Linked DNA regions of Homo sapiens: region 2 is linked to region 1. Evidence: fine-mapped expression QTL. A gene starts in region 1. The other region holds a variant in brackets. All regions are shown on one strand. Distances are from middle to middle. Region 1 holds the start of DCTN1 (dynactin subunit 1). Region 2 overlaps SLC4A5 (solute carrier family 4 member 5).

The links.
Region 2: its variant is fine-mapped to the expression of DCTN1 in monocytes after Pam3CSK4 (Quach 2016, PIP 0.95).

The regions. Positions count from the first base shown.
Region 1 is chr2:74,378,289-74,383,455 of GRCh38, forward strand. It overlaps DCTN1 (dynactin subunit 1), which reads right to left and starts at 2,023. Exons shown (of 32, transcript NM_004082.5): 1 at 1,717-2,023. The coding sequence starts at 1,749. RefSeq lists an enhancer at 1,824-2,335.
Region 2 is chr2:74,332,377-74,337,896 of GRCh38, forward strand. It overlaps SLC4A5 (solute carrier family 4 member 5), which reads right to left. Exons shown (of 31, transcript NM_133478.3): 4 at 1,651-1,801. Among named protein-coding and RNA genes, the nearest start is that of SLC4A5, 8.3 kb to the right of the region's middle. RefSeq lists a silencer at 979-1,068 and an enhancer at 2,571-2,760. The variant A/C (reference allele first, on the strand shown) is at 2,957.

The DNA.
Region 1 (5,167 bases):
AAAGGTGGCATTCTTATGTATAAGAAATGCCTCAGCCAAGATGCTGGACTGAAAAACAACCAGAGTCATTTTCTTAAACCCCATTTACAGAATTGGGTGGACCCCCAAATTCCCCTTTGAAAAAATGCCAATGATATTCTAAGATTTCTCCAAATTCCTCTGGAATCTGCTAGAATTTTTAAGTTTATATTTTTTATAACAAATCAGAATTCATTGACCAGTCTGTGAATGTCACCACATGGCTGCTTTCTCAGGAGCACTGTCTCCTTAATTCTCTTCTCAGGAGGGGAAATAAGATCAAGCAAATAACTCAGTTTAGACCAGGCTCCCCACAACCCAATGCCCTGACTCAGGAGTCTGAGCTGGGAAGACAGGCAATTCAGTGGGTGATCCTACAGAATCCTGTTTCCCCTTCCACTGTCACTTGTCTCCTCTGTGTTTCAAATGGTTTTCTTAGGCCTCACCCTTTCAGAGGCACACAATTGTGCCTCCTTCCAGACCCTTAAGTCACCACCTCTCCTTCCTGATCTGACTCCTCCCACCCCCATCCACAAACCCACCATGAAACCCCAGATGCTTCACCACAGCCCATTCAACCATTCAACTCCCCTTCTACCTGGCCTGAGTCTTGTTTGGTCAACTCTCTATCCCCAAGCTCTGGAGATTCTTCTCCATGCTATGTTGCTATAAAAAGGAAAACACAGGCCAAGTAAATTGGGTGGATCTACCCCTCGCTCTGTCCCCAAGACTCTGCTCAGTGGTCCAAATGAATGGTTTATCACTCCACAGATGGGCAAGGCAAAACAACAGACTAAGACACTGTCCTTGGGCAGCTCTTAGCTTCGGCACACCCATGATGACTGAACACAATAGAAAATTAGGTCCCAAATAGGCCCATGGTTTAGAAGAAAATCACACTTAGGTCATTTTTAGCAACAGCAACTCCATGAACCAGGGGCCTTGCAGCAAACAGATGAATGAGGCATGATGAAGTGATACCATCATCCTAAAGACTCTATGGGAGACCCTTCTGATACTCTCATTTATAATAGCTTCAGAAGGGAGCCCTGGCAGAGCCAGGGAAGAGCCAGGACACCTCCCAGCCTATCACTGCCTAATTCCCTTCCCCAAACAGCTCATCCAGGAAGGTGAGGATGTAGTTCCCAGAGGCTCCAGGACCCCAAATCACACCTGGAACAGCAGGATGGCTCTCATGGACCTGACAATAAAAGGAATTGCCAGTGATATAAAAGGCTGAACCCAAAGTCAGAGACTCCCCCACTTTCCAACCCCAATAAGCCTCTCAGAACCAGGGGGCCACAACAGTAGCTACAGATTCTATCTCAGAAGAGAAAGAAAGCAAGTAACAAATAACAAAGCAGCTCTTAAGAAAGGCTTCACTGTAAGACCTCTCTGAGCCATCATCCCCATTCTGAGTCCCCAGGATAGTCTGGACCCCCTCAGGAGCCCCTGGTATGAGGGCCAATTAGAGTCAGAGGTCAGGCCTTGCTAGTCCCCATTTAGGGATCAACTCTGTAAAGGGAAGCCTGTCCAGCCTTACACCACCAGGGCTTCGAGGGCTCCTTAGAAAACACAGTCTGAGTGCCCTCAGCTGAGCTCCAGCCTATCTCCCCAGCCCCCACAGCAATGATGTCCACAGGCAGCCAGGCCTTCCCCAGCAGCCCTCCAGGGCCATCCCAGATTAGGGCCACTTACCCGGCTGTACACGTGCCTCTTGCTCTGTGCCATGTTGCTCACCCGGCCTCTACCCCCTCCCCCAGCTGGCCAAAGACAGAGAGAAAAGGTAGAAACCTAGGCAGGAGGGTCAGGGCGCTGGGCCCTCATAGAGGGACACAGGAGTCGTCAGGCACAGCCCTCCCCAGTCCATGGGCCTCACTCGGTGGCCTACACGGGTAGGGGTGGGGGCAGTGATGGGGGCTGAGGAGCAAGTCCCCTCTGCTGCCTGAGGATTCCTGAACCCAGAGACACAGAATCCTGCTTGCCAGCTGATGAGTCTCACTCTGCGCTAGTGCTGCTCTAGACTTGTCAGGAACCGTGCTAGCCTCTGGGTCCTAGTGCCCCCCTGCTTCACGTGGGCCAGAAACTAAGGGCTGGGCATACGCCACAGACCCTCAGCACTCAACTCTTGAATACACTGTCCTAGGGCTGGAAGCAGTCTTGACACGTCCTCCTAGTCTGTACCCACTCACCATCACTGTTCCCCTCTCCCCCAGGATGTAAGGCCTCAGCAGGCCCATAAGCATCAAGTGACACTTCAAAGCGATCAGCTGCCTAGAGCCTCCACACAGCCAAAATAAGGGTCTCTCATCTACCTTTCTGGTGCTCTTCTCTCTCCCTCCCCTCTCTAAACTCTGGACTCAGGGTCCAAATTCATGTGAGTAGGGCCTGGATTTCAATCTCACACTGAGCCAGAGGAGGCAGGCCCTGCCCAGGAGGCAGCAAGAGAAGGGCAGTAATGAAGGCAACTTCACACACATAGCAAAGCAAGCCAAGTACCCTAGCCCCCTCCCACAAGGCTGGCAAAGGTTGCCATAGTCACCCTTCACCCTTTATGGTTGTTATAAGGGGCCAGGTTGTAAAACACAAGAGTATCAGACTCAACTGGATTACTAAAGGCAGTAGTCAAAAGCAGAGAGCCCTTCTTTCTTCTTGTAGCACAAGGCCCAGTCCACCTCAGTCATCTGCCCCTTGTACTCTTGGCCTTGCCTCCTAGCATCTCAGACCCAATGAAATGGTTTATTTTCTACGCTTTTGTATTTCACAAAAATTCTTCAGTAACCATGTATTACTTTTATAATTAGAATTGTTTAATTTAATGAGATTATGCATTCTAATGAGAGGTCTCCAAGGGACTATGTTACCACACTGCTTTCATTCACTGGCCCATCTATCATGGGCTAGAAACCAAAAGACCAGGGTCCCTGCCCCTACACAGCCAACAAGGTTGGCCTGGGGTCTGACCTATGGCTCCACTGAGTATGGTATGGATCTAGTTCCCTTGGGCCTAGGGACGCCTGTCTTTTCTGCACTGGGCTTACTTCACTGGCAGAACAGTGACTTTACCCCGCTCTACCCTCTTAAGATAGGCCAGGTAGCCCAACAGGAGAATGACAGCCAACATTCAGAAATATGGCCCCAAAACACAATTCCAAATCTTCAGTCCTGGCCAGACCCCCTAGGAAATAATCTCTCTCCTCCCTGCAAAATCTCCATGTCGCCCCCTCCTTTCCCTATTCGCCATTACACAGGTGGGCAGGGCCAGGCACATCCTTGCAGCCTGGACCTCACATGTTCGGAGCACTTTACAGTCTATAGGACACCTTAAAAAAAGACATTTTATAGAACCATGGTTGAGTACTGGTTCTAGACTCAGGCTACTTTCCTGGCTTTATCACTTGGTAGCTACATAAACTTGGTCTAGTTACTTAACATCTCTATGCCTCAATTTCCTCATCCGTCATAGGGAAGTAACAAAGAACATATCTCAGAGAGGTATCGTGAGGATTAGCTGAGATAATCCAAACAAAGCATCCAGGACACCGCCTGGTATTTAATAAGTGCTAAATAAAAGTTAGCTAAGAACAATGTCATCATATATAGACATTACAATAACCCCATTGAGAGGTTGGCCAGGGATGATGCTGACAAGGCAACTGAGTCTTTGAGAACTGAGCAACTTCCCTGAAGACACACAGACTGTGAGGAGTAGAGCCAAAACTGGAAACAACCTGACCCAGAGCCCTCTGTGCTTTCTACTACCCCTCACCATTACCACAGACATATCTAGGCTTCCAAGGCCCTGCTCTTCCTGTAGGCCACACTGCCTTAAAAAATTCAAAAGAGCTCAGATCTAAAAATAGCCTCACAACTCACTAACCACATAGGTATCAATAGTCCCCTAATTTCTTGGAATCTGTTTATTTTCCTATGAAATGAAAATAATATCTGCCATATCTACGTCAGTATCATGAGGTTCAAAAAAGCTAAAGCATATACAGGTACCTTGTAGGCCAGGTGTGGTGGCTCATGCCTGTAATCCCAACACTTTGAGAGGCTGAGGCCGGTGGCTCACTTGAGACCAGGAGTTCAAGACCAGCCTGGCTGACATGGTGAAACCCTATCTCTACTAAAAATACAAAAATGAGCTGGGTGTGGTGGCGCATACCTATAATCCTAGCTACTTGAGAGACTATAGGCATGAGAATCGCTTGAAGCCGGGAGGTGAAGGTTGCAGTGAGCCAAGGTCGCACCACTGCACTCCAGCCAGGGCGACAGACTGAGACTCAAAAAAAAAAAAAAAAAAGCACCTTGTAAAAAGTACAGAAATTATAGAACTGCAAAGAATTACCTGACATGATACTAAATGGTATATACATCTACACAATAAATATAAGAAATTATAGACAGGAGAGAGGTGAGCTAGAAAGAAAGGGAGTACCTAAGCATGCCTTGAATTATGGGAATTTTAAAAAATATGTGGAGGCCGGGCGCGGTGGCTCACGCCTGTAATCCCAGCACTTTGGGAGGCCGAGGCGGGTGGATCATGAGGTCAGGAGATCGAGACCATCCTGGCTAACAAGGTGAAACCCTGTCTCTACTAAAAATACAAAAAAAAATTAGCCGGGCGCGGTGGCGGGCGCCTGTAGTCCCAGCTACTCGGGAGGCTGAGGCAGGAGAATGGCGTGAACCCGGGAAGCGGAGCTTGCAGTGAGCCGAGATTGCGCCACTGCAGTCCGCAGTCCCGCCTGGGCGACAGAGCGAGACTCCGTCTCAAAAAAAAAAAAATAAATAAATAAAATAAAAATAAAAAATATGTGGAAAGGCCTACAAAGCCCTGTAACTTGTGAACACAGTATGAACAGAGGCAGAAATAACTTTGCTTGACTAGCGAATAGTAAAGAACCCTAGCTTAGCTGAAGTAACGAATTGTAGATGGTTATTCTATCAAACTATAAGCCTTTTGAAGCATAGCCCACACCTTTTCCTCTTTATGATCCAATAGCCAGTAAGTAGCTCATGGTCAAATATTTATTGAATAAACATTTATTGAATAACATTGCAACATACTGGGAGGTAACTGTGGGTAGGCACGGAGTTTAACATCAGGCAGACAGAGAAGGACTTGATCCAATAATAACAGGAAGGC
Region 2 (5,520 bases), 46 kb before region 1:
CTTCCCAAGCTCTGACTCCCTTCTTTCCTGCTTTTCAACTGCATGAAGACCTTTGATCTTCAGGCATCTTCCTCTTCTCCCCATATACCAGCTCCTCATGGCTTCATTTACTTCCCCTTCTGGTCTGGACATCATAATGAATCCTTTCCTCTCTTCTCTCATTGATACTCATAACCTCTTATTCCTGCCCTGCCAATCTCTTGGGCAAAATCAGTCCATTCGTTAACTTTTTCCTCCTGCACAAAGTACTCTTTTGTCTCTGGAAAAAGCCTGTCTTCAGTGGGAGAGAGAAAAGCCAATACACAGAATGGCAGAGGGGTGTCCATTTGTGTGTGTGTGTGTGTGTGTGCGTGTGTGTGCGCATGTATGTGCATGAAAGAGAGAGAGAGATGAGGAGGGAGAGAAAGACCTAGTCCTGTGATGTGTATGGCCAACCTCATCCCTGCCCTTCCCTGTGGTTTAGTTTTGTAAGCCAAAAAATGTTGAGAGAAGATATGGCTACCCCTTTTCTCTCTGCTCCCTGTCCTCTGGCCTCCTTCCATGTTACAGCCAAGGACATGCCAAGCCAGCCACTCAGCTGTGGCACTGAAGTAAATGCTTGGGGGATACTGTCAACTCTTCCTCACCACCAGAGTGGTAACAGCTGAGGCTCATGCACTGGTCTTGGGGAAAGGGAAAGAACTGGCCCCAGTGTTCCTCAGCCACAGGTGTCTTCCCCTGGGCACATCTGGCAATGTCTGGATCTATTTTGGTTATACTGGAGGGAAGGTCACTACTGGAGGGAGAGTACTTCTGGCCTCTAGTGGGTAGTGGTCAGAAATGCTGCTAACGTCCTACAAGGATGGCCCCCACAACAAAAAAATTATCTGACCCCAACTATCAATGGTGCCATGATCAAGAAATCCTGGATTAGGGCATTCAGTCTCTGGTTCTAGGCTCTCACTCAGGCAAAAGGAGCACTCAACATAGGCCCACCTCACTCGCCAGGGATCTGCCAGGAGAGGGAGCTAAAGATTCTTAGTACAGTTGGCCCTCTATATCCACAGGTTCCTAACCCAAGGAGTCAACAAACAGCAGATCAAAAATATTTGAAAAAATAAAAATAAATAACAATACAACAATAAAAAATAATACTCCCAAAATACAGTATAAAAAACTATTTACATAGCATTTACATTGTATTAGGTATTCGAAGTAATCTAGAGATGATTTAAGATAAACAGAGGATTGCATAGGTCACATTTTATGTGAAGGACTTGAGCATCTTCAGATTATGATATCTACGGGTGGTCCTGGCACCAATCCCTTGCAGATGCTGAGGGATGACTGTTTGACCTCTGTGCCTCCATTTTCTTCAGATACCTGGTGGACAGTGATGGCTGCTCACTGGGACGGATTCCCTTCCATCTCCTGGCTAAATGCCATCTGAACCCTACCTGGGTTTGACATCTGAAAGGATTTAGGTAGGTCTGACCTAGGACCATGGCATGGGGGCAAAATTCTTTGAAGAAAATAGCAGCTTCCTACCCTGGAAAGGCCTGCGGGACTTAGGCCCTTGTTAATGGGACTAAGGATTCATTTGGGGGCCCTGGCAGGCTTATCTAGAACCTTTACCCACAAGAAGTTCCCCACAGGCTGGGCAGTACTCACCACAGTATGTGCAATTTTTGGCTTCCAGATTGTTTGTGCCAAGCTTTGGCAGGTGGTACAATATTGGCTGCCCCAGATTCTTGTCTGCTTTAGCTGTTTCTGAACCATGTCCAGGGTTGAGAAGGGAACATACTGTGATGGTGTCAGCACTCTGCAGGAAGGTGAAAAAAGGTGAGAGATATGTTAAAGAGAAGCTGAGACATTGTAAGAGGCCAAGCCCAGGTGATGCTGTGGAGGAGTTCTCTTTCTTCACCACCCCTATCTACTTCCCAATCGCTGCTGTGGCCTATGGACTCGGCTCACTCTACAGCAGCCACGACGCAAGTCTTGCTGTTCCTCTAACACCCCAGGCTCATTCCCACCTCAGGACCTTTGCACTTACTGTTTCCCTAATCTTCAGCCTGACTTGCTACCTCGTGTATTCAACTATTTGGTCAAATGCCATCTACCCAAGAAAACCTTCCCTGACCAGCCCATCTAAAATGCCCCTCTCTGGTCATTAACTCTGCTTTATTTGTCTAAATGGCATTTCTATCCAAAACCACAGTATGTGTTTATTCATTTGTTCACTTTTTGTCTGTTCCTCCAATATGGCAGAAAGTTTGTCTTATTCACTGATGTATCTCTGATACCTAGAATAGAGCCTGGCTCATAAATGATTGGGTCCAAATCCTGACTCAACTAACTGTGGCATCTTGGACAACTTCTTTTTTTTTTCACTGCAATTTCCTCAACTGAAAAAAAATGCGAATAATAATTATATCTACCTCAATGGTTATCTGAATCAATGTGAAACCTTAGGTCAATGTCTGGCCCACAGGGAATAGTTAGTATTAACTAATAATATTATTATAATTATTACACCCTCAGGAAGAAGCTCACATGTGTATCCTGAGGAGGCGGGGAGGGGGATGAGCAGTATTCCTAGCAGCTTGCAGGAGCAGAGAGTCTTTTTTGCTTCTCCAGGAACCAAGTCCTGTTCTCCCGTCTTGCCTGCTCTCTGCTGCCCTCTGGAGGTCTGCAGTGGAGTCAGGCAGGGAGCTGATTCAGGGACGCCACAGATTATGTATCCTCCACTTCCTATGGGATAGCTGCTATCATTCCCATTTTACAGATGAGGAAACCACTTCTCACAGTTGTAAGTAACTTGCCCAAAGTCATGTGATCTCCTGCTCTTAATCACATGATGAAGAATGAGACATTGCTGGATGACAGTCTCTCTACTTAAGCAAGCTAGAGCCCACGGAGGCATCTTGGGCCTTGGCAGAGCTGCCACTGGAGCCATCATTTGGCACACACTATTGGG[A/C]ATCATTGAGGCCACAGAGGAAATGTGGGTACCTAGGAACTCGTTCTTCAGACAGATCCCCAAATGGACCCAGAAACAGCATGCAGCCAAGCAAGGGCTGGCCCCTTCCTTCCCCTCTCCCCAGGCTGTACTTCCTTAGCCAAAGGACAGTTCTCTGATCACCTCAGCCAACCTGAGCTACCCTGGAAAGCTACTTCTCACCCTGTGCCCCTGTGCCTCTCTCTCAGAGCGTATGTCACTGGCTGGGCCAAATGATCTTCATGTCAACCTAAAATAAGAGGGCTATGGAAAGACATAGCCTCTAGAGACATCTGGGAGCTGATTAACTAATAAGAACCTGGAGACACCAGCACTGTCTGATCAAAAGATACAATGGAGGAAAAGATTTCATTTTCAATAAAAACAAAAACCCTAAAACATCTAGAAATAAACTCGCCTAGAAATGCATGTTTTATATGAGGACACGTGGCAAAACTTTGCTAAGAAACACATAATAAGACATCATATTTCTGGATGGGAAAACTGAATAGGGCAAATATGCTTAAGTTCAGACATTTATATATATTTTAAATACAATTCCAAGGGCATTTTGAATGAAAATGACCAAAAAATCATGGCTAAAGTATGAGCTTAGAATGTACTGAGTTTTTACTATGTGCTAGGCTCAGGGCTGACAGCTTTACATACCTTACCTCAATTAATCCTCACAGCAACCTCAAGAGGTCATTTCATTTATTTATTTATTTATTGTGGAGACAGCATTCTCACTCTGTCACCTAGGCTAGAGTGCAGTGGCACTATCACAGCTCACTACAGCCTTGACCTCCCAGGCTCAAGCGATTCTCCTGCCTCAGCCTCCCAAATATCTGGGACTATAGGCAGGTGCCACACCATACCAGGCTACTTTTTAATTTTTTGTAGAGATGAGGTCTCAATATGTTGCCCAGGCTGGTCTTGAACTCCTGGGCTCAAGCAATCCTCCCACCTCAGCCTCCCAAAGTGCTGGGATTACAGGAGTAAGCCACCACGCCTGGCTGAGGTCATTATTAATATTTATGAAAGACAGGTTGGGGAAGTGATTAAGAGCAGGAGATCACATGACTTTGGGCAAGTTACAACTGTGAGAAGTGGTTTCCTCATCTGTAAAATGGGAATGATAGCAGCTATCCCATAGGTTTATGATGAGTATTAAATGAGGTAACATACATGAAACATTGAGAGCAGTGCTTGGCAAGTAGAAGCACTGATATGAACTACTATTATCCTCATTTACAGACGAAAAAACTAAAGCTTAGAGAGGATAACATAATTTGCCCAAGTTCACACAGCTGATAACTGGCTGCCCTGGCCTGGGGGATGGGAATAGGGAGTCTTGCCTACAAGATCTGAAAAATTATAAAATCATAATAGTTAAAACAGGAAGCACATCTTGTATAAGATATTTTTATATGCCTTGCAAGATTATGTTCTGAAATATTAGCCAATGCCTTCTCCAGCCTGATACTCCCCTTACCTCTCTCCCTTCCCTGCCTCAAATAGCCAGGCCATTCTATGCTCATTGCTGCAGGGAAGGTGTGTGAAAACAGAAAGAAGAGGTAAGGAGCCTCTTTCCTTAGGGGAATAGAAGAGACTTCTGGCCTAGACCTAGACCAAAGTGTGGGAGAAAATGGTCATGAGAAAGATCAAGGCATTCCCTGCCCCTCACTCATATCCAAGAATAATTCCCCAGGGCAAGGACAAAGGCTGGAGGGAAGTTGAGAAACATTGACTTTGCTAGGTCCTGGAGGCTGAGGTCCCAATCCCCGCTCCCTGGACTGAGCCCCACAGAGAAAGCAGCATCCCTCACAATCTGTGGATCTGAGAGCAGGGAACAGAACAGCTGCTGGGTGTATCTAGGCCAAGAGGACCCCAGGCAAGCTCCCTGAGTGAGGCTGCTTGAAGAGGTGGAGAGAGACTTTGACCTCCACAATAACCTGCAGGCACCAACGACCCAGGACCAGATGGGACAAGGATAGATGACATGAAGGGCAGGACCCTTTGTAGGTCACTGAGAGTCTAGAACCCTGCACTCCACCCCACCCCAAACCCAAAATGGAAACTGCAAAGGAAACTCAGAACTGACTGGGATTAAGGGTCAGCACCTTTTTAAAGAGCGGGGCTCAAGTACAGATGAAGGAGAATTTTATAAACAAACTAATTTTTTTACACACTTGAGTTTATGGGCCGAAACTGGTATTCTAAAGGATAAAGTTTTAAGAAAATAGTGTTAGGGAAATGCACTGTTTAAAAAATCCATTTAGAAGAGAAGCTTGGGCAGCGGACAAAGGCAGCAACTTAAATCATTCGCAGGGCTCAGCACATATTATTGATCTCTGCTCCGAAATTAAATGTAATTGTTCCTTAAGATTGAGCTTGAATTTGCATCCCGATCTGCCTTGGACAGTAACTATCTGCCCCTGTTGTCTTGGCTTCATAATTAGTTGTGCTCCTTTCATTCTCAAAAGGGTCCCATTTTGAGCAGTAAATTATGTGGTTATTCTGCCTAAGATCTTTAAATGAGAGTG